2 linked regions of the Homo sapiens genome follow. The protein of the gene in region 1 interacts with the protein of each later gene in a pairwise test. Each region holds a gene or a part of one and is shown on either strand. Other genes may lie near its edges.

Region 1 (3,500 bases):
TAAATGCAAAGACCAGCTCCAAACTATTCTTAGTGTCCCAGAAGCAACCCCAGAAACTCAGAGACCAACATGCCCCTCCGCCTGCTCACCAGCCCACACCCAGCCCAGCCTGGGTTCAAGTTCCCGCCCCTAACTGAGGACTCTTCCCACTTCCCCCAAGCTTCCTCCCCTGGCTGAGGTCTCCCACCAGGGCCGGCACGTTCCCAGCCCTGGCCAAGAGCTCCTGCCAGGACCCCAGCCTTCCTGCCAGGACCTCCACAATCTTGACCCGCTCACCTTGAGGCAGGTGCCACCCTGGGCCCGCTGCAGCTGAACCTCCAGCAGAGCCTTGGTGCCCTCCAGGCTGGTGAGCGTTGTCAGCAGCTCATCCCGCTCCGCCTCCAGGCCCCGCACCTGCTTGCGGTACTGGTCCTTCTCGATGAGGCTCTGTGAGTACTGCAACTGGATCCGGTCACGGCTCTGGATGGCCTAGGGTTGGGGGAGGGGAGGCAGCAGCTGAAGGAGCCACCTTGGCCCAGCTTTCCTGGCCTATGACTTGGAGAATGGGGACAGTAAGGAGAATGGCAGCTATCACTTACTGAGCACTGTGTGCCGGGCCCTGAGCTAAATTATCAGCTCATTTAAATATCTTCACACTAACTGGCTAAGTTAGATACTATTAATATCATTATTCTCATTCTGCAGACTGGGGAAACCAAGCCAGGAGCGACAGAGCTGGGATTCAAATCGGGCAGTCCATCTGCAGAATCCAGGCTCTCACCATTTCACCAAGAACTGAAAACTTTTCCACGAGACCTGCTGTGTGCCAGGGGCTTCACTCCCAGCATCCCAGTCAGTGGAGAAGCCAGGAGTCAAACCCAGCCCACTGCATCCACAGTGAAGACCAGGGGCTCCAGAGCTGGGCCCATGGTCCAGACCTGTCACCCATGCCTCAGAGAGAGCCGGGGGCAGCCCCATAAAATGCAGATTCCTGGGGCCCACCCCAGACCACCTGAATCAGAACGTCCAGAGAATGAAGCCCCAAATTTGCACTTTCAAGCTTGCCAGGGGATTCTGAGGGCATTTCTAATATGCAGACTTCGGCTGGGCATGGGAGCTCATGCCTTTGATCCCAGCACTTTGGGAGGCTGAGGCAGGTGGATCAGTTGAGCCCAGGAGTTCAAGACCAGCCTGGTCAATATAGTGAAACCCTGTCTCTACTAAAGATACAAAAATTAGCCAGGAATGGTGGCATGCCTGTAATACCAGCTACTTGGGAGGCTGAGGCAGGAGAATCACTTGAATCTGGGAGGCCTCAGTGAGCTGAGATTGCACCACTGCACTCCAACCTGGGCAACAGAGCTAGATTCAGTCTCAAAAAGTAATAACAACAATAATATACAGACTTCAACTCCTCTAGTGGGATTCACACCTGGTTAAGGACAAAAACCTCCTGCCCTTCCCCGCTGCAGATGGAACCTCACACAAGGAGGCTCGGGGGCCTGGTGGCACTGGCCGGAGGTCCTCAGCCCACCCCACAACCTTGGCAGGAGACAAGGGTCATAGTGCCCAGGGACTGAAAGCCAAAACTTTTGAGAATTTCTTCATCGGCTTCTATTTGTAAGCACTCCCTCTGTGCTGGCCTTGTCTTTGAGATGGACAGAACAAGGGATTCAAAAATGAAGACACCAGGACCAGCTTCTGTAACTGCCACAGGAGCTCAGATGAGGCCAGTGGGTCCAGGGTGTAAGGCTGGTATCTCAAGGGCTCCAGGTCTCCTGTCTGGTTCCCCCAGCCTTTGTGCCCCGTCCTAACCCAACAGGGAGCGGCTAACGTCTCTTTCTACCATTCTAGTCCCCTCCATTGCTCCTTGTCTCCTCCCATATGGGAAGCAGCAACTGGCCCAGGGCCTCGTACACGCAGGCTGGGCTCACCTGGTCTCGCTCCTTCTCAATCTCCTCCAGTTGGGCCAGGACAGTGGCCATGCGGTGCTTGTACAGGTCACAGTCCTTCTGCAGCGTGCGGTGCTTGAGCCGCAGGTCTTCCATCTCCTGCAGGTACTGAGGGTGGCACGGGGCGGGGTCAGACCACAGGGCTGGGGACCATGAGAAAGCTAACCAGCAGGTGCCCAGGAGGGCCAGTGAGAGACGCTCACCAACAGTCTGAGACCCAATAACAAGTCCCCTCCTGCCCAGTGGAGTGGTCTGAGCCACTGACTTTACCTCACAGGCCCTCAACTGCCTAATCTGTAAAACGAGAAGAATGATCATCATTTCACCCATCCGGCCACCCTTGGCCTCCCCACTCAAACTGCAACCGGCCCCTTCCCCAGCTCTGCATCTCCCACGGTGCTCATCGCCTTTGACTACATGAAATAGCTGACGTGGGACTGTGTATCTCACATACTGCCAGTCTCCCCTGCTGGAGTTCCCCCTCAAGGAAAAGGCACCTTTGTTTTGCTCACTGCGGCATCTCAAGCGCCTAGAAGGGTGCCTCCGTCAACATCTGAGAACAAATGAATGCAGTTCTCAGCGCGGCGCCTGCGTCAAGCAGATGCTCAGGGAAGGCGTGAGCACACAGGCCCTGCCTGACACCCTCCCGCACAAGGGGCAGGGCACGGGCAGGGCCCCACCTGGTCGCGCAGCTCCTCGGCCCACTGCAGCTCCCCCTGCACGGCATGCAGCTTCTGGCACAGCTCCTGCCTGCTGTCCTGCGCCTCCCGCCAGTCATGCTCTAGGATGTCCAGCAGGATGCGCTCGGAGCCCGGGGCCCCCGGCCGGCTCGCCTCCTGGGGATCACAGGGCAGGGCCACCTCAGGGTCTGGCTAGGGGCCCACCCTGGGTGTGGGAAGGAAGGGGACACGCAGCTCTCAGCCCTCCAAACCCACCTGACCAGCTCTGCCATGCTGGCCCGGGGCCTCGACCCTCTCTGGATCTCTGTCTCCCCATCGGCAGAGTGGGTGTGGCCCCACAAGCCCTACCCACCCTCCAGGGAGTATCTGGGGTACAAGTAAGCTAATAAGCTAAGTGGAGAAGGGTGTGACTGGACAAGTTCACCCAGGATTATTCCTAAACAAGCACCAGGCACACACTCGTGCTCTGGCCCTCACCCACCATCCAGGGCAGCAGACGGAGGCCATTCCCAAGACCTACTCCCACCCCCATGACTAGGGGTCTTCAAGGGGCTGAGCCTGGCCCATACAGGTAGACCCTGGGCCCAAGATCTTGCCCCCAGACCCACACCCCAGCCAAGTGCCCCAACCCCATGAAACACACTGGCTCTCATCCCCCACTTCCTGTGTGGAACAATGGCCAGGAGGCAGGCCCATGCAGCTGCTGACCTGCCACTGACCTGCCGCAGGACACTAAGCAAGCCCTAGGGCCCCCAGGCCACACCCTCTACAAATCAAATTAAAGCTGGGGCCCTTTCCCCAGAAAAATGCTCACACTCAAAATCAGGGGGGCAGTTTTAGGGAGTTTGAGGACCTTCTGGAGGCTGCTCACACACCCTAGACCAGACAA
Region 2 (3,500 bases), on another chromosome or scaffold:
GGATAGCGATGAGATCAACTGGAAACTTCAGTATTCTAATGATGCTATGATTTAATGCTAAACTCATTCTGACCATGAAATTCTACTTGTTCCTATTTGAACAGTATATTTAATAGCATGAATTCTGGTGAGGTGACCTAGGGCAAGCTACTTAGCAATTCTCTGTAGTCAGTATCCTTCATCTGCCAAATGGAGATAATGGCACCTACCTCATAAGGTGGTTGTAGGATTGCAGCAGTTAATGCAGTGCTCAGAGCAGCATCTGGCACAAAACACATGCTTGATAAGCTTAGCAATTATTCTTCCCATCTTTCAATCTCCTGACCATTTGCTTAAGCCAGACCCACCCTGACATACTACCATCACTTAATTCTCAGTGTGAGTGCTTTCCCACTCCTGAGTAGCATTTAGTGTACAAACCTTACAAATCAGATCCCTGGCCGGGCGTGGTAGCTCACGCCTGTAATCCCAGCACTTTGGGAGGCTGAGGCGGGCGGATCACTTGAGGTCAGGAGTTCGAGACCAGCCTGGCCATGATGGTGAAACCCTGCTCTACTAAAAATACAAAAATTAGCCGGGCGTGGTGGTGGGCACCTGTGATCCCAACTACTTGGAAGGCTGAGGCAGGAGAATCGCTTGAACCCGGGAGGTGGAGGTTGCAGTGAGCCGAGATTGTGTCACTGCACCCCAGCCTGGGTGACAGAGTGAGAATCTGTCTCAAAAAAAAAAACAAAACAAACAAAACAAACAAACAAAATCAGATCCCTTACCATGCTCCTAAAATAACAATTTTATTTTTACTTACCTTAGAAGTGTCTGGATGAACCTGACTACTGTACTTGCTATCATGCACATTAAGTGAAACGATATCAACCGTAACCCCTATAACCTGTGCTTTCCCTGAACCCACTGCCAAAATATCAACAGATCAAATGAGAAAAAAATCTGAGAGACAATACTTTTCACCACCTGGGATCACTATATGCTGCCAAGCTAGGATGACAGTCATCTAACAAAAATATTCCGTTGCAGGAAAAGCAAGCTATTTGTTGCACAAGGAGGTTCCTAAGATAAGTCCAAGTAGAGAGTTGTTCTGGAGGAAGTGGGTCTGCACTTTACACCTTCTCATGTCACATCAAGCTGGGAGAGATAGGTCATGATCTATCTCTTATCCTTGCCTTATGCTACGATCACTGTGTGCCTGATCAATGCCCAGCACATTTCACCTACAGTCTCCACCCTTATTGTTTCACTCAGTTTGCTTGACTTCCTGCCTTCATCTTCTCAAAACCTACCTTTGTAGGGGATTTCCATGCTTGAAAAAAATACTTCTCAAATCCTTTCTCACCTCAATTCCATTTCCCCTTGAAGTTGAGAATACTGTCTATAGAATCATTTTAATACAAAGTGACTCAGCCTTGCATTGGAACATCAGCACTCCATGTAAAATGCTGAGTTTTAATTACTTCATGCAGCGCTGTTCTCTTTTTTTTTGAGACGGAGTCTTGCTCTGTCACCCAGGCTGGAGTGCAGTGGTGCGATCTCAGCTCACTGCAAGCTCTGCCTCCCAGGTTCAAGGGATTCTTCTGCCTCAGCCTCCTGAGTAGCTGGGACTACAGGCATGCGCCACCAGGCCTGGCTAATTGTTTAGTAGAGACAGAGTGTCACCATATTGGCCAGGCTGGTCTCAAACTCCTGACCTCATGATCTGCCCGCCTCGGCCTCCCAAAGTGCTGGGATTACAGGCGTAAGCCACCACGCCCAGCCCTTGTTCTCTTTTCCTAACCACAACCTTTCTCCTAGGAAGGATGGTCCTATTTCCTATTTCCTTTGAACCTCTGAATAAAAATCAGAGAAGCTGTTCTTAATCTGAATCATATAGGTATTTTTCCACTACTTGCAAAATATATGGGGATGTGACCCAGGCATGCATTATTTCTTTTTTCTTTTTTTTGTAGAGACAGGGTTTCACTATGTTACCCAGGCTGGTTGCAAGCAATCCTCCTGCCTCAGCTTCCCAGGGTTGGGATTACAGGTGTGAGCCACCACATTTGGCCCAGGCATGCATATTTAGAAGTAACTGCCTGTAAATTATTTCTGAATGGATGGACAAGAAAGTTCTTTCACCTGCCTAGCTTCTCAGATAATCAAAGAAAGAAAGAAATATCTCTCTCTGTTACACACTACATCAAGGGATAACATGCCCCTTTCCTTACAGGACTATGATCCAAGAGCAAAACAGCTCAAGCAAAATATAGACACTATCGAATAACAGATTACTTAATCAGAGTCACTTCTTTATCCTATCACCCCTAGGTGAAACTGAAGTCGAGGGAAGGGAGATACAGAAGTCATGACAAAAGTCAGGGAGGGGTTGAAGATTTGAGGTCAGACTTAAAGAATGTGTTATGTGGGGAAGGAAAGCACACCCTAATGAAATGTAAAGCTGTAGGGACAATAGTATCATGAAGAGAAGACATTAGGAGTGTGAACCAAACGGAGTTTAGTCAGAGTTTTGGGGAAACAACAGAAAATTACTTTTTCCAGGTAATACAGGCCTAATATTGTTGAGATCCTTAAGGGACAAGGAATTAAAATTCCCTTTAGGAAGTAAAATGTAACCAACTATAGGCTTATCTTGTGAGGCTAGCGATGATATCAACTGGAAACTTTAGATGAAGACATACTGCAAATCCAGCTAGGACTCATAGCATGACAGCATCTAGTCTTTGTTTACATTAAGTCAAAGGAAACTGAGGATATACAGAGGACAATGAAGACATTTCACACTGGACAAAATCCAGTAATCCAGAGAGATCAGTAATATCTGATGAGAATTTCAGTGGTTTCACAGGGACCACTATAGAAGAAGAAGAGATTAGTATAGTTTAGTAAATAAAGGGAGGTGGAAAGGTGATTAGTAATTATAATTTGGAATAGGTCATGATCAATTTCCAGGCCTGATGAGAACAAGAGCAGCTCTGTAACTGGTATCACAGAAAATACCAGACTAGAGCCCAGGCTCAATGGTGGTAGAGATGTCATCCTGGGTGCGAGCAACATAAAATAAAAAACAAAGCCTAAAGACTTGGCACTGGAGGCACCCTTTGAGAAACTCATAATGCGAGGAAATCACAGTAGGTAGAAACAGACCCTTTAAAGACATTTCTGGAGGTGGTGGAAGCATAAACCAGACTTCATTTGCGTATATGATACTTACTAAGCACCTGCCATGACAGGGTATCATTCAAGGCATTGGGAACAGAACAGAAAATAAGAAACAAGATGAAAACGAGCATTTGGTTAAAGAGGGAGACCCAGGTACTGCAGTCACCAAATTTCAGGAGGGCTGGGTCTCAGGAATGAGCAGCACTGTCCAATGAAGCACAGGTGCACATGACAAGTAGCAGGATCCACTGGCTTAGGCACAGGATGGGAACTTTGGAGTCTAACCTCAAAGAAAGAAAAGTACAAAGTAGAACAGGGTCCAGAAACAGTCT

What was found. The genes of interacting proteins can lie anywhere in the genome.
Region 2: the proteins of CARD10 (region 1) and ZNF12 interact in binary tests that used the Homo sapiens proteins (3 or more experiments, as listed by UniProt).

The regions. Positions count from the first base shown.
Region 1 is NC_000022.11:37,505,916-37,509,415, forward strand, and holds part of CARD10 (caspase recruitment domain-containing protein 10), read right to left. Parts: intron 2,768-3,500; coding exon 2,612-2,767; intron 2,040-2,611; coding exon 1,914-2,039; intron 469-1,913; coding exon 277-468; intron 1-276. UniProt on the Homo sapiens protein: Scaffold protein that plays an important role in mediating the activation of NF-kappa-B via BCL10 or EGFR.
Region 2 is NC_000007.14:6,693,448-6,696,947, forward strand, and holds part of ZNF12 (zinc finger protein 12), read right to left. Parts: intron 1-3,500. UniProt on the Homo sapiens protein: Transcriptional repressor which suppresses activation protein 1 (AP-1)- and serum response element (SRE)-mediated transcriptional activity.